4 linked regions of the Homo sapiens genome follow. The protein of the gene in region 3 purifies or fractionates together with the protein of the main gene of each other region. This does not show direct contact. Each region holds a gene or a part of one and is shown on either strand. Other genes may lie near its edges.

Evidence for each region.
Region 1: the proteins of CMA1 (region 3) and MANBA purify together in Homo sapiens (co-immunoprecipitation; 2 studies listed by BioGRID and IntAct, with this or other methods). This does not show direct contact.
Region 2: the proteins of CMA1 (region 3) and FRAS1 purify together in Homo sapiens (co-immunoprecipitation; 2 studies listed by BioGRID and IntAct, with this or other methods). This does not show direct contact.
Region 4: the proteins of CMA1 (region 3) and FAT1 purify together in Homo sapiens (co-immunoprecipitation; 2 studies listed by BioGRID and IntAct, with this or other methods). This does not show direct contact.

What each region holds. Positions count from the first base shown.
Region 1 is NC_000004.12:102,631,967-102,638,991, reverse strand, and holds part of MANBA (beta-mannosidase precursor), read left to right. Parts: intron 1-2,984; coding exon 2,985-3,127; intron 3,128-3,946; coding exon 3,947-4,204; intron 4,205-6,710; coding exon 6,711-6,935; 3' UTR 6,936-7,025.
Region 2 is NC_000004.12:78,052,731-78,060,332, reverse strand, and holds the start of FRAS1 (extracellular matrix organizing protein FRAS1 isoform 1 precursor), read right to left. Parts: upstream 3,011-7,602; 5' UTR 2,324-3,010; coding exon 2,248-2,323; intron 1-2,247. UniProt on the Homo sapiens protein: Involved in extracellular matrix organization. Required for the regulation of epidermal-basement membrane adhesion responsible for proper organogenesis during embryonic development. Involved in brain organization and function.
Region 3 is NC_000014.9:24,505,254-24,512,522, forward strand, and holds CMA1 (chymase isoform 1 preproprotein), read right to left. Parts: upstream 3,013-7,269; 5' UTR 2,983-3,012; coding exon 2,925-2,982; intron 2,254-2,924; coding exon 2,103-2,253; intron 1,352-2,102; coding exon 1,216-1,351; intron 1,030-1,215; coding exon 775-1,029; intron 407-774; coding exon 263-406; 3' UTR 100-262; downstream 1-99.
Region 4 is NC_000004.12:186,587,837-186,594,861, forward strand, and holds part of FAT1 (protocadherin Fat 1 isoform 1 precursor), read right to left. Parts: intron 2,568-7,025; coding exon of another isoform or gene 2,532-2,567; intron 1,385-2,531; coding exon 756-1,384; 3' UTR 1-755.

The sequences.
Region 1 (7,025 bases), on a different chromosome or scaffold from region 3:
AAGAATAGTTTGGGGTCAAAAACGAGGCAAGGCCACAAAGTAGAAAGGTTGGGTGAGGTTCTTTTTGTTTTTTTTGAGACAGAGTCTTGTTCTGACACCCAGGCTAGAGTGCAGGGGTGAGGCTCTTAAACTGGCTGTGAATGCAGATCAAAAGAAATTCATTCCAAACATGTTTTCATTAGTGCCAGATGGATGACTCTTACAGAGAATTGGATTTCTAATCAAATTTCTCTGACCAAACTCTTTATCAGCACCAACCAGATAAGAGAGCATTGAATGAGAATCAGGGGTAGAATTGGGGGGAAAATCCTTCTGGGATGCTGGAAAGGTAGGCAAAGAGATAACTGTTCAGAGACTCTTGGATACTGATCCTGCTTTCTGTCTGTGGATGAGGTTGTGGACTGAAACTGAGTTCGATTCAAGAAATGGGAGAGCCCAATTTTTGTAAATATTCCTTTAAGTGATCCCATGCAGATTATTCCTGAGTTCCTCAGGAAGAGTAGGTCTGTGGGAAACAAGACACTCAAACTCTAAGTGGTTTTTTGTTTTGTTTTGTTTTTTTGTTGAGATGGTCTCACTCTGCTTTTGCCCAGGCTGGAGTGCAGTGGTGCAATCATGGCTCACTGTAGCCTCCACCCCACAGGCTCAAGCCTTCCTCCCACCTCAACTTCCTGAGTACCTGGGTCTATAGCTGCATACCACCATGCCTGGCTCATTTTTGTATTTTTTTTCTGGAGACAGGGTTTTGCCATGTTGCCCAGGCTGGTCTTGAACACCTGGTCTGAAGCAGTCTACCCTCCTCAGCTTCCCAAAGTGTTGGGATTACAGGCATGAGCCACCGCACCTGGCCTAAAAGTGCTTTGTTAATTCCCTCACTCCACAACAACAATCCACACAGAAGACTTCTGTGACCAAATATATGGGAAACTTCCCCCACACACCAAGCAAGCAATCACTTCTGCAGTGGACACCATGCGAGTGCCCTCCAATTTAAGTCTGACACTATCTACCTGCAGATTGCATCAGATTCCATAGGTTGAGAACTCAGTTCCACAAAGCTGCCTTCCCTCTTTAGACAGCAGTCGCAAGTCTGGGCCTCTAGAACTTCTGACTGACCAGCTTCAAGCTGGGGTTCCCATGACCCCTTCTTTGGGTTTAATTTGCTGGAATGGCTCACAGAACTCAAGGAAACATTCTAACTGCTGTATTACAGAGGATGTTTTAAAAGACACAAATAAACAGCCGTATGAAGAGATATATGGGGTGAAGTCTGGAAGGGTCCTGAGTGCAGGAACTTTATCCCTGTGAGGCTGGGGTGTGCCACCCTCCAGGCATGTAGATGAATACTTGTTCCTCTTTCTGTCAGCCTTCACATGGTCAGCTATGTGGAAGTTCTTTGAACTCTGTCCTCTTGGGCGTTATAGGGAGACTTCATTGGACAGCCATGATTGATAACCATGTAGAAATGTGATTGGACAAAGCGGGTATGATCTAATACCATTAGACTGAGTGGGGAAACACAGCAAGGCCTGTCCATTCAGCTTCTTGGCCTCTCTGTGAAGCATTTCCTCCTCCAGGGTATGAGGCAGGACACCTTCTGAATGAGTGTCTTATGACCCACAATCGGATTAGAGACCTGCCTTGGGCTGGTGAAAGGAGGGAAGGAGATCAGAGAGATAGATTCTGTTTTCTGAGGCCTGCTTTTGAGTCCTAAAGCTTCTCAACATTATAACAAGAGTCTGTAACAAGGGCTATGGTAGTTGTGAGCTAGGAACCTGTATTAGTCTGTTCTCATGCTGCTGATGAAGACATACCTGAGACTGGTAATTTGTAAAGAAAAAGAGGTTTAATGGACTCACAGTTCCACATGGCTGGGAAGACCTCACAATCATGGCAGAAGACGAAGGAAGAGCAAAGGGACTTCTTACATGGCAGTGGGTAAGAGAGGACTTGTGCAGGAAACTCCTTCTTTATAAAACGATCAGATCTCGTGAGACTTATTCACTATCACAAGAACAGCATAGGAAAGACCTGCCCCCATGGTTCAGTTACCTCCTACCAGGTCCCTCCTACAACACATGGGAATTGTGGGAGCTACAATTCAAGATGAGATTTGGGTAGGGGCACAGCCAAACCATATCTAACTGTAGAAGAAAAATTATATATGTATATATAATAATATTACAGTAGGAAAACCCAAGTACCAGAGCTTGGCTGTTTTCTAAACCCTGGCAGGATCCTGCCTGCCTGAGGAGGATCACCAGCTCCTTGTACTTATTAGACAAAAAGGTTATCCGGGAGAAGCTGTGACAAGTTTTCTATATCTGCTTCTGCTCTGGGGGCCTCACAGCCCCATGTTGATTGGCTCAATAAATCCACTGCTTCTAGTGCGTGCAGTAGGGGAGGTATTTGTTATCTCTTATCACCCGAAATGGTTATATATTAAAGCAATCAATAGCTACCTAGAATCTATAAGTTATTATATACAGTCATGCACCGTATAACATTTCAGTCAACAACACAGTTCATATATGATGGTGGTCCCATGAGATTATAATACTGTATTTTCACTGTCCCATTTCTATGATTAGAATTACCTACAGTATTCAGCACAGCAATATGCTGTACAGGTTAGTAGCCTGGAGCAACAGGCTATACCATATAGTCTAGGTGTGTAGTAGGCTATACCATCTTGGTTTGTTTAAGTACACTCTATGATCACACAATGATGAAATTGCCTAACAGCATGGTTCGTTAATGCCTGCCCTGGTTCGTTAGTGCCTGCCCAGATGTTGTGAGGGTGACATGACATAATGTCCAGAGTGCTCAGAGCGCTTCACAAACATGGGTGCCCTCCACTGTTGACTCTCCCTCACATGCTCACTCCCTTAGAACCCCGATGAGCCACAAACAGCTGGGCCATTGGACAGTGCCTCTCTGACTACTTGACCTTGCCGTCTCCTGACACTCTTGATTATTTTCAGAGTACGGAGGAAAGTGGAAAATGCTTCATTACTTTGCTCAGAATTTCTTTGCTCCACTGTTGCCAGTAGGCTTTGAGAATGAAAACACGTTCTATATCTATGGTGTGTCAGATCTTCACTCGGATTATTCGATGACACTCAGTGTAAGTTACTTGGATTGTTTTCTAAGATCGAAGGAGACTTTTAGATGATTTCTTTAGTTGTTTGGTTACATTCTTTTGGGAAAATAAAAGAGAAATTAATTTAGAGTTAGAATACATATATTCAGGCTACAACCCTGCCATTAATCATGTGACCATAAGCAAAACCCTTCACATCTTGTTGATTCAATTTCTTCTCAGTAAAATGATACCAGTCTCTCTTCTTACAGGATTTCTATGAGTAGGAAATAAAATAACTAGATGAAAGCAAATCACATATGCTATAATGTGCCCCTTAAATGCAAGGTTATTTATAATTGTGAGAGGCTGGAAATAGTCCAAACTTTATAAAAAGAAATGGTTAAAAATGGCATGTTATAGTGAAAATCAGTAAAACTATTCAGAATGCGCATGTGGAAAGCAAATTTGTTTTAAAAAACAAATTTAAGTAAAAAGAAAGGCTAGAAACTCAAAGTCTTAGGTGGCTATAGTTTGGAGGACACTAATAACACTGAAAATAGGTCACATTTACAGAAAAATTACAACGCACCAGGTACTGTGCCTTCCGTGGATTATTTTTTAAATTCTCACAACAGCCTGTGACATTACTGCTGTTATTTTCATTCTACATATGAAGAAATGAAGACTGAGAAGTTACTTAGTCACATAGCTAGTATTTTGCAGGACTGGGATTAAAACTCAGGTTTCATAGTCTCTTAACCATTTCTGCTAACCTGACTTTCAGCAATTATTACTACTATTGTTCCTTAAAAACATAGCAACCAAGAATGCCTGTTTTTATTCTGTTTTATTTCTCCCCAGGTGAGAGTCCATACATGGAGCTCCCTGGAGCCCGTGTGCTCTCGTGTGACTGAACGTTTTGTGATGAAAGGAGGAGAGGCTGTCTGCCTTTATGAGGAGCCAGTGTCTGAATTGCTGAGGAGATGTGGGAATTGCACACGGGAAAGCTGTGTGGTTTCCTTTTACCTTTCAGCTGACCATGAACTCCTGAGCCCGACCAACTACCACTTCTTGTCCTCACCGAAGGAGGCCGTGGGGCTCTGCAAGGCGCAGATCACTGTAAGCACAGGTCATGGCGGAGGGCAGGGGACTGTGGCCTTGTGGGGTTCTCCTGCTCTTGGGCCAGCTCCTTGCATCCTGAGATTTGCATGTGTCCCCCTTGGTGCTGAGTTTACCTGAGGCCTGGGGGAAGATTGGCCTCTTCCCACTAAAAGCAAACACCAAATGATTTCTATTTCGAATCCAGGATTTGTCAGAGTTGCTGGTGACCACTACTCGTTTGTCCCATCACCCCTCCTTAGTGGGCAGGTGCAGTGATGGGAGAGGAAGCTCGAGTCATCACCACTGCCTGCATGCCCACTAGGTTCCAGGCTGTGTTCTAGGTGCTTCACCTCATAGTCTCTGACTTTCACCACAGCTCCAGGCATTATCATCTGCATTTTGTAAGTTTGGAAGCCAGTTTAGGAGGTTAAGTGATGAGCTCGAGGTCCTGTAGCTGGGAAGCATTGGAGCCCAGCTGACGCAGTCTAATTTTAAGTAGAGTCTATTAATATTCACTCTAGTCTCTTTGATTTATTGCTTCAAAGTAGCTCAATCACCAAATCTTTTTATAATTGCCAAGATATAAAAATGGGATGATCAGGATGTGTTGTTATAAAAATTGTGCAGCTGGAGAATTTGGAATTTGTCTAGTAGGTTGAAAACCTTTCCTTCCTTCTCCCCTACACATAGCAGTTGGAAATATATGTACACATATATGTTTTTAATTTTATTATCTTATCTTCTGGACACTCAGGAAATATCTTTCTAGAAAGTTACATTCTCTGTTTTTAGAAAATTTTAAATTTGTTTTACACTTTTACTTCATAGAAAGGGATTTTCTACATTTAATTTAGAAATAATCATATAAAAACACCTAATTCTTGTGTTTTATTTGAAAGAGCCTAACAACTGAAAACATACCTTCTTTCTATAGTCACATAATAAAATCCAAGTTATCTGTAACAACTAATAGAGAACAGAAGAAAATGACAGTCTTACATATATTTTTTTCCAAAAAAGAAAAAAAAAACCACTATGTACTGGATGAATTTTCAGTCTCTAAACTTATGATTTTGAAAACCAAATTTTTTTCTTTCCTGAGTTAGGCCTTCATTACCTTGAGGTGGGTAATTGGGGTGGGAGAAAAGCAGGGCTCTTTCTTTGTTCTATCTCATTTTGATTTCAGTGAGACTTGTCCTTCTTAAAGAGATAAAATGATAGTAATAATACTGTTAGTTAATGTTTAATTCGGGGCTAATATAGACTAGGTATTTGGCTTCTTTTCTCAAGGGAGATGCCAGAAACTTGTTCTCCCTGTCTCCCTGAAGCCAGGGTGCAAGCTTGAATCCCAGGCTCTGCAGTCAGACATACAGAGAGGAGATTTCCAATCCAACGAAGATAACCAGCATAAGCATGACACCAGCATCTCTTTCGGCCTTGGTCTTGGAGCAGCAGAAGCTGATGCTACCCTGGCAGCTTCCTGGGCAGGCTGGCATGAGCCGCATGAACCTTGTTCCTGTGGCTGCTTTAGGACCTTCACTGGAACAGCTGGGCGGTGCGATCTGGGAATTTGCCATCCAAATTCAAGCCTGAGTCTCTGATCCTGAAGAGCAACCTGATACGCTTTATTAAGCTTCTTTTCTGCTTCTATCAATATAGGTTTCCTTGTGTATAACTCAGAACCCTGAATGATAACATATTACACAAATATGTAAGGCTAAATTATATATAGTGAAAATGGCCCTTTGAAATTCTTTATGTCACACATAACATATAATGTAAGACTGAGATGTTGCATGACAAATGCACAGATTAAGAAACCAGGTTGCACTCAGCTCCGTGCTCACACAAAGAGAGGTTTGCAAACCCTCCCACTCTGGGGAGCAGCGCATCCTCACTCTGGGCATATGCTATTCGGCTACTTAAGAGGAATGGAGCCAACACGATTTAAATTGCACTGTCTCTTTTTGCTGCTATTTTGTGGAATTCACACATGTAAAAAAAATGCTAATAATGTGACTTTACTTAACTATGCAGTAAAAGAGATAAGCTCTAATGGTAGAGCTTTTGTAAATTTCTGGCAGTGGACTTTCTAGATTGCTGGATCTTTTCAGGAGACTTGAATGTAAGCTCCACAGTTGGGCTCTGTAGCTAGGTCCAGATATATCCTTAGAAAGTCATTAAAACCACCCAGGCTGTATGTAAAAATGTTGCTCTCTTGATGATACTCTGAGAAAAACTGTAAAAGATGTAAAGCTTTGAGCTTCTTGTGAAATATTCTCCTTAATGATTGGAGACGATGTATTTCCTTGATTTGTGATTATAATTTGGTAACGTTCCATAGCCTGTAGTCATTTTCCATGTATTGTTTTGTGTTTGAAACTGCACTTTAGCAGTTGTAGAACCAAAGTTGTGGGAAGTGGACTCCTTGTTAAGCCCACATAAATGTTTACAGGAACTGTATACAGACTATATAACTCTTCCCTCATCCTTCACTTCATTCATTTTTTTTTTTCTTTTTCAGGCCATCATCTCTCAGCAAGGTGACATATTTGTTTTTGACCTGGAGACCTCAGCTGTCGCTCCCTTTGTTTGGTTGGATGTAGGAAGCATCCCAGGGAGATTTAGTGACAATGGTTTCCTCATGACTGAGAAGACACGAACTATATTATTTTACCCTTGGGAGCCCACCAGCAAGAATGAGTTGGAGCAATCTTTTCATGTGACCTCCTTAACAGATATTTACTGAAGGAATCTAGGTTGTATTTTCAGTGGACAATGGGAATAAAGCATTTCTAAAGCACCGACTGGAGAGGAAGGCAACAGAGACAAGGAGAGA
Region 2 (7,602 bases), on a different chromosome or scaffold from region 3:
AGGCTGATAATAAAAACTTGAGGAGATTTCTAAGATCCTTGAGGTTTCCAACCTTGATCTCAATGCTCTTATTTTTTAAAGAAAAAGAAAACCTTGAGAGGACCAAACCAGAGGTCTCATCAGATGACAAATGTTTTTTTGTCTGTGGGAGTGATATCACTTAATTAAACTAATTAAATGAGATAAAGTATGTAAAGTGCTTAGCAAAGAGCCAGGCAAACAATACCTGCTCAATAAATGGCCATGTTCATTCATTCATTCATTCATTATTAGATAAGCACCATTATGACGTGGGTGGAAACTCAGACATCTATCAATTTATCAATCCAATTTGTGAAACAGCTATAGAATGCTCTGACAGTAAAGTCAAACAATAAGAAGCAAAGTTTCCAAAGACTCTTTGGAGTAATATCCACACCCTCTCTCCGCCCCCGCCCCCGCCCCCCGTCTCTACCCCCAGCTTTCTGTGCTTCACATCCCCCCATCCCCACCTCCCAGTCTAGATTCCGCACTTCTTAAACTTGGCCCACTGGATCAAGCAATCTGCCAAAGAGCGCACCCTGCAGGCTCTTAATAATAATGCCTTTTGTTGATTTCAGAGTTTTGGTTCCGACAAGCTGCACCATTCCAACTGCCCCCTGGTGAGCTATCCGGGAGTGATAGCACGTTTCCTGCGTTGCTGGGATAGGACTCTAAATTTTAAAAACTGCCACCAAGTGAAATTAATTTTTCTAAGTACCAAGTTCAGGTTTGGGTGGCCTGGGGTGACTCTCTCATCTGGTTTATTGTTATAATCAAGCCCTACAAGCTTTTTTTTTTTTTTTCCAAAGTACGCGCCCACACGCACATAAACAATAAAGTTATATTTCTACAGGACTTGCACTGTTGGGAGAAGGCTGCACAGGCCCCAGATGTGCCTTTCGCGGAGATTATACACACTTGACACACATCCCGGAAGAGTGCAGAAGGCAGCACCTGGACCCACGGGAAAGTCCCCCACCCTTGTGCGTGGATTCCCAAGGCCTTTCTCTTGGGAAGCCAGCAAAGAAAAGGCAGCTGCTCCAGTGACTGGAGGTCGACCCGAGGCAGAGCTTTGTCCTCCCCGGGCCTCCCGCAGCCCCCAGTCCTGCGCCAGAGCTCGACTCCCGGGAGCCGCCCCGCGCCCCTTCCTAGGCACCAGGGCGGAGAAGGCGGCCCGCCCTGCGCCCGCCGCCGCCGCCCAGCCGCGGCTCTGGTTTGCGGCTGGGCAGGTGAACTCTTCTTCCCGCAGCTGGATGAATAATGAATGGAGCCGGGAGGGGAAGCCGAGAGCCAGGCGCTGTGGATTAAGCCGTCTTCCTCCCAGCCCGCCGGCTCCCTTCCCCCTCCCTAAGCACTGGCGGGGCGACTTCCCTGGCTCCTCGGAGCAGGAGGGAGCTCACAGCGCCTCGCGTCCCCAGGCCCGGCATCCCATGACCCCAAACTCTTGATTTACTTATTGACTCATTTATTTGGCTGAGCCCGGATTGCATTTGATATCATGGCGACAACTAGTCTCACGGCTTCCTTTTCTCTCCTGCGGCTCCGGGGTTTTACAGGTAGCTTGGAGCCTCGGAGGAAAACCAGGAGGCGGAGGGTGAAGTAAAAGAATGAACCTAAACTCTTATTAACCACTTTTGTTCTGGGAAGCAGGCTGGTTCGTGCTTCTCCGTACTGGAGAGATTTCTTTCAGTGCAACTGAACTGCCCACGACCAGAACACGCTCCAACCAGTTAGTTATAAAATCCTAACTGGACTTTAGGGGGAGACTAACTGAGGTAAGGAGGGCGGGAGAGCGATGGGGCTTTAAGATGAAAGACTGTATGTTTCTTAGGAACAGAAGTATTTTTAAACAGGTAAGAGCAATTGTTCGCTCCTCACCTGTGCTCCATGCAGTTGCTTTCCCTTCGGGGAAAGGTAGGTGGTGGAAAGAAAAAGGATCAGTTTCAGAGATGTCACCTCCATCGGCCACCCACCCACCCAAAAGCACTTAGGGCAGAGAGGGAGGCCGTTTCGGGGGTGTAATCCGAATACAAAACAATCAGGAGTAGGAATCTTATCAGAAAAAGCCTATTCCAGTTTCACTTCCACCTCACCCTTCCCAGAAAAACTTCCACCTCACCGAAATACCATAAAACCTGCTGAGATTTTTAAACTGCACGATCACTCACACATACACACACACACGCACACGCACACACACACACACACGCGGCACCGCTCTCTCACCTTCGGAATGATGAGGCAATACTGCAAATTCCGCCAACGCTAGGGCCAGCCCGAGCCACACTTTGAGGACACCCATCGCCGCCTCGGCACCCACGATGGAGGAGCCCAGCCTTCAGCATCCAAGAAGCGGCTCCGCCAAAACGCTGGCTCCGGCGCTTGGAACCCGGGCGCACTGAAGGTGGGGGACCGCGGGCCTTTACCTCCGGGAAAAAGAGATGGACGGGCGGAGAGCGACACTCATCAGCCCGGAGGCGCCGGAGCGGGCTGGGGTTCAATTCACTCGCTGCTCAGGCAGAGAGCGCGCCGAGTTCCCCCGCAAGGCAGGACGCCAACGTGAGCTTTGGGAGAATAAGAGGAGGCAGAGCACAGTTCTCCGCGTCAAAATCTCGCCGGAAAGTTGCTGGTCACTGGCCGATGGGATCTTCCAGCATTTCCCTCGGGCTAGACCCTTCCGATCCCGGGTCCCCGACAGTGGAAATCCTGGCTCTGGTTTGTCCGAAGCAGCTTTTTAAAGTTCGCTTGGCACCATACGTCGGCGTTGCGTCGGCACCGCGGGTCGCCGGGAGCCCCGAAAGACCCACCCACACCCACTCCTTGGTCGAGCCACCCGGCTCGGCAGACCTCATCTGCCGGGGTCCGCTCGCTGGAAACTGTGCAGCGCTGAGGGCAGCTCCGGGGACTCGCCCGCCCTGCAGCCGCACCGCACCACACCGCCTCAGGCTGCGCTCCCTGAAGCAGACTGTTCGGAAGCTTCAGAGGAAAGACTGGGGGGCGCTGCTGCTACTTTCTCGTCCCCGCCCCTCGCCTGGGTGAGGAGGGCTGCGGGGACGCGGCTTGCTGCACACCAACACCCACCTCCGCGCTGAACACCCCGGAGGAGGTCTGCAGGGTAGAGGTGCAATGATTACGGGAGTGGAAGAAGAGCCATAATTTTAATTGCACGGAGGAAAAAGCTAGCGAGGCTGGAAAAGACCCCCAAACTCAAGGCCACTCTGGCGAGAGAGCCTGGAAACGCCCAAAATACGCCGGGTCTGGACCCCGTGTTTAAAGGACACACGTTCAGCCTTCCTCTAGTCTCCCTTGCCTCCTTCCTCTCTGCTTTGCTCGGTGTGAAAATGGACCCAGAGACTCGGAGCTTTGGCGAAATTCCAGAGAGTCACGTGGGGAAAGGGAGAAGCGAGGAGGGAGGTGAGGGGAGGCCGGGAGAGCAACCTGATCCCTTTATTCATTCTGCTGGAGTTCAGATTGGCTTTGTCTGGGGAGGAATCAAAAGTGCTCATACCGGGGACGGAGGGGGTGGAGATAGGTTGCACAGTTCTTGCTCAGGCACACCGGAAGGCAGATGAACCGTGTCCACATCCCTTGTTAGGGGAGGAACCGATTCGGCGGGCTGGGGGAGCGTGTGCCCACATCAAAGGCCCTGGGGCTACCTCCCACCCCCACAGCCCGCCACTCCTGCTGAACTAAGTGCGTCCGGGGGACCTGATTGATCCTTCTTCCTCGCTCTGGGACCCTCAGGCTGTTGCATCCTGGCTTTTACCAGCAGCCCGGGAAGATCTTGGTGTGTGTGTCCTAGGCGGAGCCTGAGAGCAAATGCACCTTTCCCTTTCCCTAGGAGACTCTGTCAGTGGAACACAACGCGGTCTGGGAGCTGTGGGTCCAGCTGCGCCCCCAGATGCCAATGGCTGGGAAAGTAACATCAGGACACGGCCGACTGGGGCGCGCACTTGAAGAGCAGAGGCCTTGATTCCCCGCCAGGACTGACTGACGGCAGCTATTTTTATAGGACCGAATAAAAATAGCTGGTCCACGTTTAATCGTTTTATAAGGGAACAGTTGCATCAGAGAGATGCTGACTGGGTTCTGATTGGCCCAGAGAAGAAACGTCTCGGGTCCCTCAATTGAGTCGGGATGGGCGAAACTGTTGGAGGGGAAGCAGTTGCATGAGCTGTGCTGGCGGGGGTCCCACTTGTTTCCAGTCTTCACGAACACCATGACGCGGGCCCACGTTCTAACGTGCACTGACGCCACTTGGAACAATTCACTTTTCCGAATAACTGGAATAACTTGAAACTGGCAGGTCCCTGTCAGTGTTACTATTCAGCCAGAACAAAGGAGAACCTCTGACAACCTGGCTCTGAATCTTAAGTATTTGGAGGACCCAGGGTTTGCACATTTCGCCCTCAGTCTCTCTGTTGGGCTGTGGTCATTCTAGGGACAGAGGTTGTATCATCTTTGTATAATTGAAGCACATAGTAGGTGCTCTTTAAACATTTGTTGAAATAATGGATTAAGTGCCTGAGAGCAGCGGCCATATCAAGGGGAGCTGCGGGCCTTAACCTCCTCCCAAAAAAAGACCCCTCCCTTTTTATTTAGAAAGTAGGGCCTGTGCGGTGGCTCACGCCTGTAATCCCAGCACTTTGGGAGGCCAAGGCAGGCAGATCACGACGTCAGGAGTTCGAGACCAGCCTGGCCAACATGGTGAAACCCCATTTCCACTAAAAATACAAAAATTAGCCACGTGTGGTGGCACATGCCTTTAATCCCAGGTACTCTGAAGGCTGAGGCACGAGAATCACTTGAACCCGGGAGGCAGAGGTTGCAGTGAGCAGAGATCTCACCACTGCACTCCAGCCTGGGTGACACAGCGAGACTCTGTCTCAAAAATAAAGGTCGGGCGGGGCGGGGGGGTGGAGGACATCTTCTCAATCCATGTAAAGTGATGTGCAAATTCAAACTCAGCTTCCAACACACTCTGACAACCAGACGGTCACCCTTAAACCCCCTCCTAATTTTGCAGCTGCTACTGAATGGGAGTAACTTAAACCGTTTGTTCTCTCAAAAATCAACAATTTGATTTTATTTTAAAAATCAAGCTGGGTGCAGTGGGGTGCACCTGTAGTCTCAGCTACTCCAGAGGCTGAGGCGGGAGGATCACTTGAGCTTGGAAGTTGGAGGCCATGGTCCACCCTGATTACGCCTATAAATAATCACTGCACTCCAAAAATCATACAATTATGGCACAGGTCTCAATAAGATATCTGTTATACTTGCTAATTGCAAATATGCTACTTTTCAAAAAGGAAAAGCAATAAATAAAGGGAGAATAGCACTACCAAGTTACCCTGAATTAATCATATGCTGTATTTATTGGATTTATATATAACATCCCCCCTTGACCACCAGTCCACCACAGGGGCACATGCTGGCCCACTCACATAGTCCTCCCTCTGCCCTAAGTAGTCAAGGGAGAAGGCAGCCTGAGTCCTTGCCCTAAGATCACTTGGAAGAGCAAAGGGTCAACCAATATTTCTGTAATATTAGGCATATCTAACACCTATGTTCACTTCAACTGAAATGTTGGAAAAAGAGATTATATAAACCTAACATATTTCATTATGATGAAAATTTAGTAAGCATGTTTATGGAGATGCACCTAATCATAACTAGCTTATCTCTATAAGTTAACCTCCACAAATGACAGCTTCATGCTTCCTCATAGGAAGTTGGCAATTCACTAGCCAGAGATATTTGGGTCTATATCTTCAGTCCTCTTTAGTTACAAGTCCAGATTCCACAACTTTTGTTAATATGTTCCACAATATCTCCTTGGATCAGCCCTGCTGTCATCTCTTCACAACTCCCTGTCCTTGTTGCTGCCCATTTTGGGGAATTTATTTATCAACTCCTGCTGTAAACGATAATAATAACAATGATAACACATATTGAATATTTTGTGCCTAACACTGTACACTTTCTCATGTAATCCTCCAATAACCACGTGAGATAGGTGCTATTATTATTTCCATTGACAGGTGAAATAACAGATGTTCAGAGAGTTAAGTAATCTATCCAAAGTCAGACAGCTAGTACCTGACAACGCATATCAGAGCAAGAAATTCTAGCTCTCATAACAGGCAAACTCCCAAATCACAGTATCTTAACACAAAAAGAGTTTATTTCATGATCACATCTTGGCCCCTGGGAATTGGTGACTCCTTCTAGTCAGGCCATCATGAAACATATGACACCCATGGCTTCTGCATGGGGTAATGAAAGAGGCATTGCAAACTTTAAGGGCCTCAGCCCTTCCTGTCACAGTTCAATGACAAGAATGAGTATTGTGACCCCTATCTACTTACAAGGGAGGATAGGACACATAGGGGAAGACATATCTATTTAGTGAGCACTAACTGTACTGCTTTACCCTAGCACCCATGCTCTTATCTAGCTTAACTGTCCTTAGTTATCTATCTATCTATCTATCTATCTATCTATCTATCTATCTATCTATCATCTATCTGCCTACAGTTAACTATCTTAACTGTCCTTACCAAGGCCCCAGTTGCACATTCCCTGATGCCACCAGGGCTCTGCTGACCTTTATTACAACTCCTCTACAGATTCAACAGTCTGCCTTTGCTCTGCTTTCCTGCTCATCTGCTTTCCTGCTCATCTGCTTTGCTCTTTTTACTCTTTCTCCCTCCCATCTCCCTTTCCTCTGCTTCTCACTGTCTTTCTTCTGCATAACCCTACTCTGTGTGTTGAGTCTTCTATCACATCTTTCTCCTGTACGTGCCTTCTCTGATCTTCTTTCAGTTGCCCTGGGAGTGTTCTTGCAGTCGTAGTGCATTTGTTCTGCTTTGTGCATTCCAGCATGCGACAATATTTATTGCCTTTTTTCTGCTTCAAATAGTTATTCCAAAAAAGAATATTCAAATAATACAGAAATATAAACTGATTGGCTCTGTTATAATCTAGCCCCTCTGCAAGGATAACCACAGCATATACATTCAGAGATTTTCCCCTGCTTAAAGATAATTCCTTTTACAAAAATGGGATTATAACTTACATGCTATTTTATAACTTGCCTCCCGCTCTGAACAATATACTGTGCTATAGGCAAGCCACAAGTTTCCAAGCCAAATCATATTGATCTATGTCATTATTTTTAAGAGCTGCTCTGGTTAACATTGTATTGATATGTCTATTTCGCCAATCCCCTTTTGAAGAACGTTTAGATTGTTTCCAATTTTTTGCCATTGTAAACAATACAACACTAAATGTCCTTATAAAAGCCCTTTATGTACTTACCCAATTTATTTCCCCGGAATAAACTTTTGTAGGTGAAACTGCTGTGTCAAAGCATGAATAAAAACTTTTGTAGGTGAAATTGCTGGGTCAAAGCATGCTCATTTATCATTTTGATCTGTATCATTTAATCTGCAAATCGCAAAAGATAAAATAGCACTTTTCTGAACACCACTTATTAGCTGTGTCCTCAGGCATTTTAACCTCTGAGCCTCGGATTCCCTGTCTATAAAATGGACATTATGATAGTGCCCACCTCACAGG
Region 3 (7,269 bases):
ACCCCTTCCAAATCCTTGGGTGCTTGGGCTGGGAATCAGGTCACTATGTGCAGGGAGAAGAGAGCAGCAGAGAGGGGACACACACTCACGACTAGAAGCTGTGTCTTCACTGAGGTTTATTGAGAGTTCTGTGACCTGTAGGATACTTCTGGAGGCTTAGGGTTGTGGCTGAGGGACCAAGGGTAGACCAGAATGAGTGGCACACACTTTGCTGCTCAGGTCCAGTTCCAGCTTCCCTTTCAGGCTGGCTCAGGATCCAGGATTAATTTGCCTGCAGGATCTGGTTGATCCAGGGCCGGTAATGGGAGATTCGGGTGAAGACAGCAGGGGGCTTTGCATCCGACCGTCCATAGGATACGATGCCCTGGGCCACCCCAGCACACAGAAGAGGGCCCCCAGAGTCTCCCTGTAGGGGGAGGAGAGAGAGAAGAAGGTGAGCCCGGGAAGTCCTCCACTCCTGTCTGCCAGCCAGCTTGGAGTCACAGTGAGACCTAAAGTCAGACGCAGGAGGTGGAGCTCCTCACTTATACATCTAGTTCTGATGCCCCTTCTTCCTTTCTTGGGACCGTCATCCACATTCTCCACATCACCCCATGCCCCCAGTGCAGTAGACTGGAATGGATGGTCAGAGGCTGTCTTGGACCACGGGAGGACAGCAATTCCTGTGATGCTCACCCTGTCACTGACTGACAACCTTCTGACCCCATCTCCTTCTAAGAGCATTCTGGTCCCTGAACAGTGAGTTTTGGAGAGGAAACCTAGTTGGAGGATCACCTTAAATGCAGATTTTGTCTTCCTGGGATTGCCCACACACAGCTGAAGATTGTGGTCAAAGTCTCTGAAGTGGCTGCAGGCCTGGGGATCCATGAGTCTCAGCTTCACCTCTTGCAGAGTGTCTGAGCCCGGCTTCAACACACCTGTTCTTCCCCAGCCAGCCACCCGGCACATTCTCCCAGGTGGGACAAAGTTGAATTGGGATGGGAAGGGGAGTGTCCCCACAGCCAGGGTCAGGCTGGCTTTCTCCTTCAACTGTGAAGGGAATGAAGGACTGTCAGTCCTCGAAATGGGCTCTGGACAGTTGGAGGTGATCAGGGAGGGACAGGGTGAGTAGCTTCATGTTATAGCCAAGTCCTAAGAAAAATTCAGGGCAATGAGGACCTGAAGGAGAAGCTTAGGAGAATGGGAAGTGGAAAGGGAGAAGAGAGGTGTTGTCACCTTTAGTAACATGATATCGTGGTGAAGAGTAGAAGTGTTATATTTTGGATGACGGAATTGCTTTATAACCTCAAGCTTCTGCCATGTGTCTTCTTCCTCTGTTATGTTATGGGCTCCAAGGGTGACTGTTATAGACCTGTTGTGAGGAAGAAGGAAGGAAAAGGAGCGACAGTGATGGCTTGGGGTTTCTTCTGAGGTGAGCTCATTCTGAGAAAAGAGGACTAAACTCTGTCACTGGGTCGCCGGACTCTACCCATCTCCCTTTTCATGGGCCACTTGTGGCATTTGAGGGCTCAGGCTTAACTCATGAAAGAGCTTTCTCAGGAAACAGACACAATTTCTACGACCCCTGGAATTGCTGGGGACTGAACAGGCCAGGGAGGACTCAGGGGACAGGGTTCACACTTCCTAATTCAGGGAACCCTGCATGAGGGCCAGCCCCTGAAGCAGGAGATATCAGTTAAACGGGAAAGTGGGGGTCTCATGTAGACCCTGTTCTCTGCCTCCCATAAAATGATGGGTTCAGGACCCTGAGAACTAGAGGCCAGTGTTCTTGAAAAGGCCATAGAGGAAGTGGCCCTGAGACTGGGTGGGGCCCTGAAAAGTGAGCCGTGTGTCTTGAGTTGGGTAGGGGTGAGGGGTGCTACTGCAACAAGAGGGACCTTGGACAGGACCTCCTTTTCCTCCGAAGGGGAGCTTAGCTCACAGTGACTGAGGCTCAAGGAACTATTCAAACACAGACTAAAGTCTTTCAGCCCAAGTCTTCCCTCTCCTGAAAGTTGACAAGACCCAGGACCCCCTCTTCAGTCCCCAGTGCAGGTGTATTCCTGGATGCTACTCTGGTTGTTCATCTCCCATTTGGAGATAAATAGACCCTGTTGTCTCACCTTCCTGCACAATGAGCAGCCGTCAGCACAAAGTTCCGTCTTATAAGGAAACCACCACAAAATTTTGAGGGACCGTTGGAAGTTACAATTTCCAGGTAGGCCATGTAGGGGCGGGAATGTGGCTTGCATTCTGTGCCCCCGATGATCTCCCCTGGAACAGAGCACCCCAGGGTTTGAACACGGCCATAGATACTCTCTCCAATGAATGGACAAATTGGGTTAAAGCTGAGCTAGGCTTCCCTGGAATCTCATTCTCACCCTGTGTTCCGCCCATCTTCCCTCTCCTGTCTCCTGTATTTCGTATCTTTCCCCACCCATAACCTCCCAGGTGAAATCTCATTCTTGCCTCTGCTCCATTCTGATGTTTTCATCTCAGACTTCTCCCACTCCCACCTTGCCCTGGCCCACCCTCCTCTGTCTCTGTGTAGGACCCACTGTCCAGGTTCCTGTTTTAGATTTCTCCATAGCTCTTGAGCATGGTCACAGAGTGAGAAAGTCACAAAGTAATGGGTAGCCCTGATGCTCAGAAGATTAAGAGGACATGTCTGTTTTCCTGGGGATACCCCTTTTCCTTCCACTTGCTCTGGGCTTTTCTACAATTGAGGTGAAATTCCTTGTTCCTGGGGGCTGTCCTAGGCTGTAGAGAATGGCAGTGGGTGGGGGTGGGGGTGGGGTGGCACACATCCCAAGTGGAAATTTCCCTCTGGGACTCTTGAAGAGAGATCTTGGAACCCTGTTTAGGAGTCAGCTATTTTCAGACTAAACATCTTTGTTTCAGGAGCTGATACTGCAGATTTCAGAGGGAAGAACCCTGATACTCACCAGCTTCAGCTCTGGAGCACAAGAGAAAGAGCAGCAGGGGGAGAGGAAGAAGCAGCATCTTCCCAGAGAGGCTGCCTGAGCAAATGCTGGTTTTCCTTTCCAGTCTTGGGTTTTATAACTCCCAGAAGGCAAGAGAGGGGCAAGGCTGGTAACCACAGGAACTGCATGGTCACGTTTTCTTCTCTCACTCTGAATTGGCTGTTTCTGATCAGAAGTTCCCCTAGAATCACCCAGTGTTTTTCTAGAAAGGAACTTGAGCCCTGAACTCCCAAGTGCTGGCTTCTCAGATGTACCCTCAACTATGGTGACTTTTCTGGAGTTGGGGGCAGGAAATGGAGGGACCATGTTTTTCTTTCCCAATTAGGGCAGCTTGTGAAAGGCCCACTGAACGTTCAGTGCAAAGACTTTTATGGCTATGTTCCATAGTCAGAAATGCATATTGCAGAGTCCCAGTGCATGCACATATGTATGTGTGAGTATGTAAGCACAAATTAAAGGTTTCAGGAAACAATCTTTATCTTAACCATGTGCAGTGTTTTCTGTTAGTTTCCATTCCACTCCACTCCACTCCATTCCACTACACGTCAAAACTTGAGCAACAACCCCATTTAAATGATAATTCCTTGTAATTTGAAAAACATTGACCTGGATCTCTCTCCTCCTCTGAACCACATGTTTTTGACAGAAGAGAGATCCAAGGAGGGTAGATGTGGGAAAAGAACAGACCCTAGGACAGAACTTTATGCAAAGAGCAATTGGGATTGGAATTAGCATTTTCTGAGAGTCTAGGTGTATCATATATTGTCACAACTCTTAGATATATTATTACTTTCACGGCAACCCTATCAATATGTATTACCATTATGATCATTATCATGTCATGATAGTCAATTTTTTAAATCAGCTATCATAGCTTATGGTTCAGAAATAGATTTTCCTGATATCAAATCAAGGTCCCTTTCTGCTCTAGCACTAGAGAGAAATAGAGGAATAGAGTCCTGCCAATGTGCAGGGGAAGTAAAGATGTAGAAGGGTGTTTGCTCCAGAGAGGTTGGGGTTTCCTACTGTTGCATTAAGAATCAAGCTTTCCACAACAACCTGGGGACACACCATTACTGTCACTTTACAATTGTAGAATTGATACTCAGACCCATTAACATGACAAAGATCACACACCTTATAATATCAGAAGTGGGTTTCAAGCACATAGCTTTTATTTTCCCTGGACTTACAGAAAGCAGTCCACATGGTGGACTGTCATTTCTCTTGGAGATTTATAAGGCATTTAGTTCAAAGACGGGGATGAGTAGTGTATAAGTGCCTTTCCCAAATCATCTCACTATGCCCTTGGTCTCAGGTTGGGCTTGTGACCAGAGTGATCCACTCCTTAGTATATATTGGCCAGGTCCTCTGTTGCTTTTAACTTAATTTCCCAAGTTCTACCTACAGCTCTAACTCTCTCTAGAATAAGACATTTAAACACATCCGTAATGTCTTTTCAAATCTGGTCTTCTTAAGTGTCCTTGTACCACTTTCTTCACTCTCTCGGGGGTTGCCAGAGAATATTCAGAATGCCCAGTTAAATTTGTATTTCAGATGAACAACAAATCATTTTTTAGTTAAGTATGTCCAAATATTGAATGGGACACACTAATACTAAAAAATTGTTGTTTATCTAAAATTTGAATTTAACTGGAATCCTGTATTTTTTATTTGCCAAAGTTGGCAACTCTTCTCTGGGCATTTCACCATTAACAGAACAGAAGAGAATCCGGAGCTGGAGAACTCTTGTCTTGTGGTCTTACATCAGTTAGACCAAAAAATCAGAGGCTTAAACAAATCAAAGCTGTTTGCTTTCACTGATATAATTAGAAATTGAGAGGCAGGTAGTCTGGGGCTAGTAAGACAGCTCCACAGCATCAAGATTCAGATCCACCAAGACTTAAGTTTTGCTCCACCTGCCTGGCTGAGGGTGAGGAAATGGAATAGGTATAGCCCCAGTCAGGGGACCAATTTCAGAAACGAGGACTGCGCTATCTGCTCACATTTCCTTCTTTGCTTTGTCATATGTATACCTGTGTATTTTAAGAGATTTCCTTTTTCTCTTTCTTCTTCCCCCTTTGGTTATTTTATATATAGCATGTTGGTAGTGAACTTTATGGTTTAGGGTACAGTTATCAAGTTGGGAGACTAGAGAATATCAAATTGAAAATGTGACCAAACTATTGTTGGAGCAGGTATCACCTAGAGACACAGTACTTGAAGTTAAAAGCAGTAACTGTTGAGACTGGGTTATTTCAGTTCTGCTGAGTCAAGTCTAATTTTCCTTTATATAAAAGATGGTAAAGATTATGTTCAGTGGGATAATTTTTGTTCTTGGAAACTTTAAGTGTGGCAAAAGAATGAATGTTGATGTGGGGCAACCAAGTGATGGATTGTAGTGGACATTTTCCATTTATATGGCTCCTTAATGTCTCTGGAACACCCTTCCTGTATTAGAGGAATTCCCAATGATAACTTTGCCTTACTAAGGTAGAATCCACAAACTTCCATTCCCAGTTTCTCTTGCATTTAGGTCATGTGACTTAGACTCTGTTAATCAGATAAAGGGGTGTACAATTTGACTTAGAAGGGAGTAACATGAGGGAGCTATTATCATGTGGAATTAATTCTTCTAGTGAGGGTGACTGGTAGAGGGGTCAGGGTTTGTGGAAATAATTGATGATTCAGATATCCAGTGCTGCCTAGAATGTTTGGGCCAAACAAGTGGTAGTAGGACCTTTGCTGCACAGTGTTATGGTGTATTTTGGACATTGCTTCTGGCTAGTTTGACTCTAGACATAATCCTACAGCATCTTGGGAAGCAGCTGTTGAGTATGTATAAGAAAGGACTTACTAACAATCTGTTGTTATAAAATAAATGTGTGGTTAGTGGAGGTAAGTGATTTCTCATTGCGGCAGATACTCAAGTAGAGGTTGAATCAAGTCTTGATTCACAGTTAGTAGGACAGAAAATTTGGGCCTGATGTAGAAGCACTGGCATTTAAATAATGGCAATGATTCCTTAGTAACTATAATGCAGAGGGATCATTCCTTCTCTGAGTTTCCAAACATTGTATTAACTGTGCTAGTATTCACTTTGACATTTAAGGCATGCAGTTTGCTCTGCAGTTAGATGGGGTGAGTTTGAATCTTGGTTCTGCCACTTAGCTATGTGTCTGAACTTAGGAAAAATTTTAAAGTTCTCAGCCTTAGTTACTGCATCCATAAAATATGAAGAATGATACAGTACAAGGATTTTTTTCAGAATTAAATATGATGCTCAATGTGAAATGCCACATGATTGGTTCTTAATAAACGTTGGTTTTATTCCTTTGTGTTTTACCTTGTGCTGCCATATCACCACTTGATGGATAATTGATAGATATATCCTCATTGGCTATAATTTTTTTGATGAAAGAATAAATCTTATACTTCCTCTAAATTCTCCTAAACACATTACAGATTAACATCTGTTATGGAATTTGGTTATTTCATGCTTTGCATGTAACATCTTTTTTCTATTCATTCATGTGCTGCCAGGCTGTTTATTATTCTCTGAGTAATGACTGTGTCTTTCTTGATTGAGCATTTCTATGCAACTTGTTTTAACCCTCGAGTTGGCAGGTATAAAACACCTAGAAACTTTTGTTGCAGTCTCTTCTAAAGAACTCCTGTGGGTCAGGGACAGCTGATGGCATGGGCTCATACTGAGCAGTAGTGCAGTGGAGCAGACAGAGTACATCCTTCATGGCACTGGCAGATTTTCCTGAAGCAGGCTGGAGCTCACTCTGTGTTTGCCCTCGCAATAAGTCCTGCCTGTTTCTATAGTTTCTGAATGACCAAGTTTTTCTGAATTTAAGGTTTATGTTTAATAGCTGCTGGCTTACATTAAACATCTATAAAGCAATTTAAGAGAATTACTTTCAAATTGATTTATTTTACGATACTCTTGCCTTCACTCCTAACACAATAGCTCACTTTTGAATTACTGCACTCTGCACAATATTTCTGAGTGGACAGTGTATCCAGGAGAATGAGATATGTAGAGATCCTTGGAGATTATTCCCAGTGTTGGGGCAGGAGGAAGATTTCTCAGCGTGTGTGTCCTTATTTCTTTTCCAGGCTCTTCAGCACAAACCTAAAAACATTTTGCTTTTTTAAGGGGTTCTTCCTAAGATTTCTCTTTCCACTCACCATTTCTGCAATGGGCTAATATTAAAGTAGGGAGAGTCTCTGAGGGTGCCCTTTATCATAAGTTTGGGCAAAGCTCTTTATGTGGATGGTTTCTGCTGTAGTCTCTGAG
Region 4 (7,025 bases), on a different chromosome or scaffold from region 3:
GGTAGTTTTCATTAAAAACCTTTACAAGACCATTGCATCACAAATATACAGACACTATAAAAACTGTGTCATGGTGGTTTTGGTTCTAAACAGGTATGCAGAAGGTCCCCGTTACACTTTCCAATAATGAAAAATGTTTATAATTCTAAATACAGCAACCCATGTAAGACATGTTCATGTATCTGATCTCTCCTTCATCCTATGTACAGCTAGAAATGAATGACTACACTGAAATGTACTAACAAAATGTCACACTTCAGTGGAAAAAGACAGAATGAAACCCTGGTTATAGTAAAAAAAAAAAAATCAGGGTGCTAGATAATGGCACTGACACCACCAAAATTCAGTTGAAACAAATGCACAAAATATCTTGGAAATCTAGTTAAAACTATGAAAAATCAAATCTGTACATAAAATTTACAAAAAAAAGAGACAGGAAAATTAAAATAATCAAATCTATATAAATACATGAATCATGCTGACAACACAGGACTGATTTTTCGTTTGATTATTTTAACACAGACAGATGTAAATCCCAAAAGACGTTGGGAAATGGCACAGCCGATGAAAACCTCACGATGACAGTAGTTGGGACACTGGAAATGGCTAGCACGTCCAGAGGCGCAGGATCCAGCGCAGCCATGCCCATTCGGCTCACCAAAAAAAGCTTGGAAGCACTGCTGCAAAGAACAGCGCGGATTACTCACATCACCTCTAGGTTCACTAAAGTCAGGCACTTTGGGGGGAGTTGAGAGTCAGACTTCCGTGTGCTGCTGGGAATCCAGGGGCGGGATCGTCACCTCTTCGAAGTGGCCGTCGTCCCCGCTCTCATAGTCACTCATCATGACCTCGGACTCCACTTCGCAGCAGGCTGACACGTCAGAGCAGGAGGCGGTGGAGGCGTACACAGACATGGGCATGCTCTCGACAGCGGGCGCCTCGAAGTGTCTTTGATACCCTGGCGGGTAAGGGGCATGGGGTTCTCTACAAGTACTATTCTCACCAGTGCCTTTTGTTTGAGGTTCAGACATATCGAGGGGATAAAAATTGGGCAAATACTGATTCAAGTTGAACCTCTGCCGGTTTCTTGATGAAGAACCCAAGCTACCCGCGGCAGGCATGTCTCTAGGAGGGTGGATGGATTCAAACTGATTGCTGAATTCGGGCGGTAACGGTGGTAGCTCATCAGCTGCGGGGAAGTCTTCTGGGGGTGGAGGAAAATCACTTTCGATGTCGTAGCCTCCAGGGTAATAGTCCGTATCGATGGCGTTTGGATCTGCTGAGTACAGGGGTGTCTGCTCATCAATCACCTCATAGTTGGGGAACTCTTGTATGTCCGGCAGAGGAACGCTTGGCATCCAATCTGATGTATCCCAGTGATACCCTTGGTGGAAAAGAAAACAGATGTCAGTGTGTTTTCTCCTAAGCTTTTGTGCCATGGAAAGAGAGCTCAGTGTATCAAAGACACAAAGATGCAACCGCATTTATGCCTTCATTCAAAGTTCACCACTGGAAATTCCTCGTCTTTGCTTTGAAGACATCCCCCAACCCACTCCAGTTTAAAGACCCCTATGAACTAGGCTCTAGTTCTAAAATGTGGACTTACAGTTTTATGTACGCAACTAACATTCAAGGAAACAAAAGGAGTCCTAAGAGAAATGGGATGCTAGCATCTAAATTATATACATTTTTCTACAAATGATTCTAACCATCCTTCTGGCTTTTCTTCTGTAGAACCCACTGCTCTGTAGGAAGAAGAGTACTGATCCAGTCTCAGGACATTAGTGAAATATCCAGTGTCACTTGATCTGCACTACTTCTCATTAAAAAAATACTGATTAATGCAACTTAAAAAAATTTTGCATTTCTATTTTTTATAGAGACAGGGTCTCACTATGTTGCCCAGGCTGGTCTTAAACTCCTGGCCACAAACAATCTTGCCAATTCAGCTTCCCGAAGTGCTGGGATTACAGGTGTGAGCCATCAGGCCCAGCCAATGCAACTTTTTAAAGTAATAAAAGTAACCTTTAACATGCTAAAGTTTAGAAAATAAGCTTCCTTCATAATAATGTAGCAAGTTTAATATTAAAATTACTATTTTTCATTAACCCTCAGACAACAAATTAACTTAATATAGGTATGTATCAAAGCATGCCAATTCAAGCAAAATACAATTGAACAAGCGTTGCAAGATTATAACACAGCCTCTGATACACTGTAACAATCAATCTGTGTTACTTCCAAAAGGACTGTGATCCTTTTAGACTATATAAAGCACCACTATTTTAAAAAAAAACTTCCAATTTTGGAATAGTTTTTTTTTTTTCCTCCTTAGGATTTAAAAAATCCTTGGAGAGGCGGGAGAAGGTTAGGCAATCCGTGCTTCAAATGCAATGCGCACACACATGCAGCCGTGTACTTAGTTACTGCTGCAAACACTGGGCGACCCAGCGTAGTCAGTCAGCACTGGGGCAAGGCTTGACCCATTGTTTTTAGTGAGTATCAATGAATAACTGGCATGCATAAGTCACCTCTTGGTTTGCTGAGGTCAGGAGCAGCCAAAGATTCTTTTGGTGGCAGAGTAGAAAAAAAAGAAAACATTTGTAATTAAAACAGTCGGCTGAAAAGGCAATAAAGGTAAGTACACAGAACAATGAAAACTGCTTACAGAGGCCCAATCAGCCATACAGCATGTCCTTACGCCAGTATCTATGACAATTCCAAATGGCTGAGAAATGTATGTACCACAAATAAAATGGAATATGGAAGTGGAGGAAAGTGACTGCGGAATGAGGAACCAGAAATTTGGCCAGAAAACTCAAATATTACTTTCTTTTCCTTGTTTCTGACAATCACAGCCTGAAAACACAGAATTTCCTTAGGAATAATGAAAACAAAACAAACAGGCTCTAATAAAATATAAACTGATCAGATTACATAGGTGATAATCCAAATACATCTACAGCTACATAATGCACACACTTTATAGCACACTGCAACTTCAAAGGACATTAAATTCAGAGGAATTCATAGGCAAACTTAGATACTTAAAGACAGATGTACAAGCTGAAGATCTCTCCAAACTGTATGTATTTTGAATATGCTTTAATATTGACACTGTGAGCCATTCCCTAAAGAGACCACGGCTACACTTACCCCATGTCTGTAATTACACTTGCCCTGCCAGGGCCCCGCATCTATACACAGAAGCCCAGCAGGAAGTGTAACCAAACGCATGTAAATCCCACTATCAGTTAGGGCCATGAGACGCCTGCCCAGGCCCTGGCTAACCTTCAGGTTCTCTCTTTGAAATGGGGTGAAAATCCGTTAGAGTTGTTATGAGGATTAAACAGGATCATGCAGGTTAAGCACTGTTAGAAACTATCAATAACTGTGAAAGTAGACATCACAGCAGAAAAACGGTCACATCCGTGATTTTTTAAACAAGGCTTTCTATGCATTCAACAGTGTTATAATTTGGGACAAATATTTGATTGATAGTTCACTTCTAGAAATTTCAGTAATTTTAAAAGACTGTGGTGTCTCTAAAACATGAATACGCCGGCATTTAGGTAACATGTATCTACAGAATCATTTTTAAGTCTAGTAACAAAAGCAGCAATTCCTTTAAACAAAAAAAGATCAACAACTTTTGTTACGTAGGCACTAGTAATAGCTTTCAACTTTAAATTCCATGTGCACTTCTTGGATATGCCAAAAAATATTTGTCAATGAAGGAGACTGCAATGAAGGAACTGTTGAAATTCTGCTTCTATAAGCTTCAATAATATTTAAAATGCTGAAGGTCATCAGTTTAACACTAAAACTTCACTAGACAAAATACAGGTATGTTTCTGATTTGCCCAGTGAAAACATGGTACTTCTTAGGAAAAGAAGTGTAGGCGTCATCAGTAACTATAACCATGAACACTGGAGTATCTAAGCCTCTTCTGCCTGATAGCAAATGGGGCCCAGAGCTATCCTCCCTCCTCCTGAACCTTGACAGCATCATGTCCTAGCATAAAGGATCCCCCGAACTCTATGATGACGTCTGTGTACTCGATGGCCTCTGTAAGCAGTTCTCGAGTGGGATCTCTAGACCGGCACCATCAGAGCTACCTGGGAACTGGTGAAAAATGCAAATTCTAAAGTCCCAACCCAGACCTGTTGGATCAGAAATGCTGGTGCTGAGAACCAGCAATTGGGCTTTTAACAGCCCTCCAGATGATCTGATTCACATTACAGTTTGAAAAGTACTAGCCTGTGTCTTCCCCATGTGATGAATTTCAGTGCACTAATAAAGGGCTATTTTAATTTAAAATAATTTGGGGAAGGTGCTCAATGTCCTTTCTTACAACTCTGAGCAGATAAAGCTTCACATTAAATAATTTTCACTAAACCAAATATGAAAATATTCTTTTACCATGCTCTACACCCTTTTCTTTGATCATACTCAGGGAAAAACCAAAAGTGAAGAGTCAGTTACAGGTTAATTATGAAAGCTTTACATTATTCAAGTCTTATTCCTGTACATACGAAGAAGAATTTTTGTTTCAAAAAAATTTTAGGTAAAATTACTTCTGAACTTTTTCTTGATTGCACCACCTACAGATAAGCTCTCCAGATCTCATGTAAATCACTATGAATGGTAAAAAGGAACAAAGACATAACATACATTGAGATATTTTTTGCAAAGCACTCATATTACGTATATACACACCTGCATAAAATAAAAGGACTCAACCCCCTCAAAACCACAAACTGTTTTTTCCTACCATTGCAATAGCAATGCGGCCGAGCTCTACGACACGGCTGCTGCAAGACACAGACACAAGCACGAGCACTTACAACTGTACCTTCTGTGCTCACCGTGTCAACCACAGCATTGACAAGGTGCATTACGGTCACTATGGAAGCTTGCAAAAAGGTACAAAAGCAGTCAATTAGGAACATCTTCAGTTAGTTAGAAAACAGTGCATGAAATAAAGTTTTGTATTATACCATTTCTACCTCAGATTCCAACCGATGAGTGCTTTAATACAACCACATAATGATGCGTGGTCTCCTCACTGTTAGCTGTGTGTCTCAGAGACTTTTTTAATCGAGCTATATATTTGTTATTATTAATCAAAGGAATAACGTAAACATATTTTATTGGAATTTAAACAAAAAAACTTTTAGCTTTAAATTTTTTCACAATTACAATTATGCATCATGCCAGGCCAAAACGATTCTTATTTTAACATCTTACAGGCAAGACTCGACATTCCAAGACTACAGTCTGTGGTTCGCCACTCTTCCGGCTGCTTAATCACTCACACATTGTCCCCCAAAAAAAAGAAATTGAAGGAGAAACATATGCAATCTAAAACAAGAATGTTTTTGTCCCTGTTCTGATTGCTTTCCCTGCAAATTTCTCGTCTGTTTGCAGATGGACTAATCGCTGGTGAGCTAATGTACGAGTATAGGAGGAGACTCTGTCCGTCTGTTTCCTGTGTAAATTCCCTTTTCATTTGTGTATCAGATTGTTTTAAAATAACTATGCCAAGGTAAATATGTACGCATGTGGTAGGCAGAAGGCTGGCCCTCAAATAGTCCACGTCCTAATCCCAGGAGCCTGTGAATATGTCACTATACATGGCAAAAGGGACTTTGTTGACGCGGTTCAGATAAGGAAATTGAGATGAGGGATTTCCCTGGATTACCTGGGTGGGCCCAGTGTAATCATAAGGGTAACTTTTCTGCACAGAGGCGTTCCCAGTTACGGCTGGGGGGAGCTCTGCTGACAGAAGGGTGGTCAATGAAACACTGTGTTGCTGTCTCTGAGATGGAAGAAACCAAGAGCCAAAGAATGTGGGCAGCCTCTAAAAACCAGGAAAGGAAGGAAAACAGGTTCTTCCCTCGAGCTGCAGAAGGCAATGCAGCCCTACTGATCGCATGACTTAAGCCCTGTGAGACACAGGGGTTGGGCTTCTAAGCTACAGAATGACAGCAACACAAGTCTACATTGTTTTAGGCCACAAAGTTTGTGGTAATCTGTAATGGCCCTGGAAAACCGGGAATACGACGCAGGAACAGACTCTCAGCAGACTTTCAGTTTACAACTGATAATTACATTATGGTAATGAGTAAAATAAAAACACTCCTGTATATATGTTTTTTCTCTGCATTGTACTATCTGGAAGCTAGTTTTCATAACTAATTTGACCATAACTTATTGAAAGCACTTGGGACTATTTTTTTTTTTGAGACAGAGTCTCGCTCTGTCGCCCAGGCTGGAGTGCAGTGGCGTGACCTCAGCTCACTGCAAGCTACAACTCCCGGGCTCAGGCCATTCTCCTGCCTCAGCCTCCCCAGTAGCTGGGAGTACAGGTGCCCACCACCACGCCCGGCTGATTTTTTTTATATTTTTAGTAGAGACGGGGTTTCACTGCCAGGACGGTCTCGATCTCCCAACCTTGTGATCCGCCCGCCTTCACCTCCCAAAGTGCTGGGATTACAGGCGTGAGCCACTGCGCCCGGCCACCTGGGACTATTATTAAGAAGACTGATGTTCCAACAACAAGAACTAGAAAGAAAATGCTGATAAAATTCTGAAATGTATTTATAAAGAGCATTTAGGGGCCAAGATATAAATTATTACATAAACTGGAAACAGGAACTTCTTAGAATTAAAATTGATAAAAGACATAATTCTATCTTGTTGGTTTAACAAGCAAAGCTATGTCCATACACCCTATTCCTAATCAACACAGGTATATTTTGATACCATATATACGGTATCAAAATATACCTGTGTTGATTAGGAATAGAGTGTGTATATATATATATACTTGAAAGTATATATATATATATATATATATACTTGAAATCAGAAATGATAGCACATACTTATAGCTATCTTTAGTTTGAAAAATGACTGCAATAGATAATGACTATATGGATTTATGGACTATATGATGTATTATGGACTATATTACTCTGGATTGAATAATTATTAGTGGGGTTACCTTTTCCCACCAATA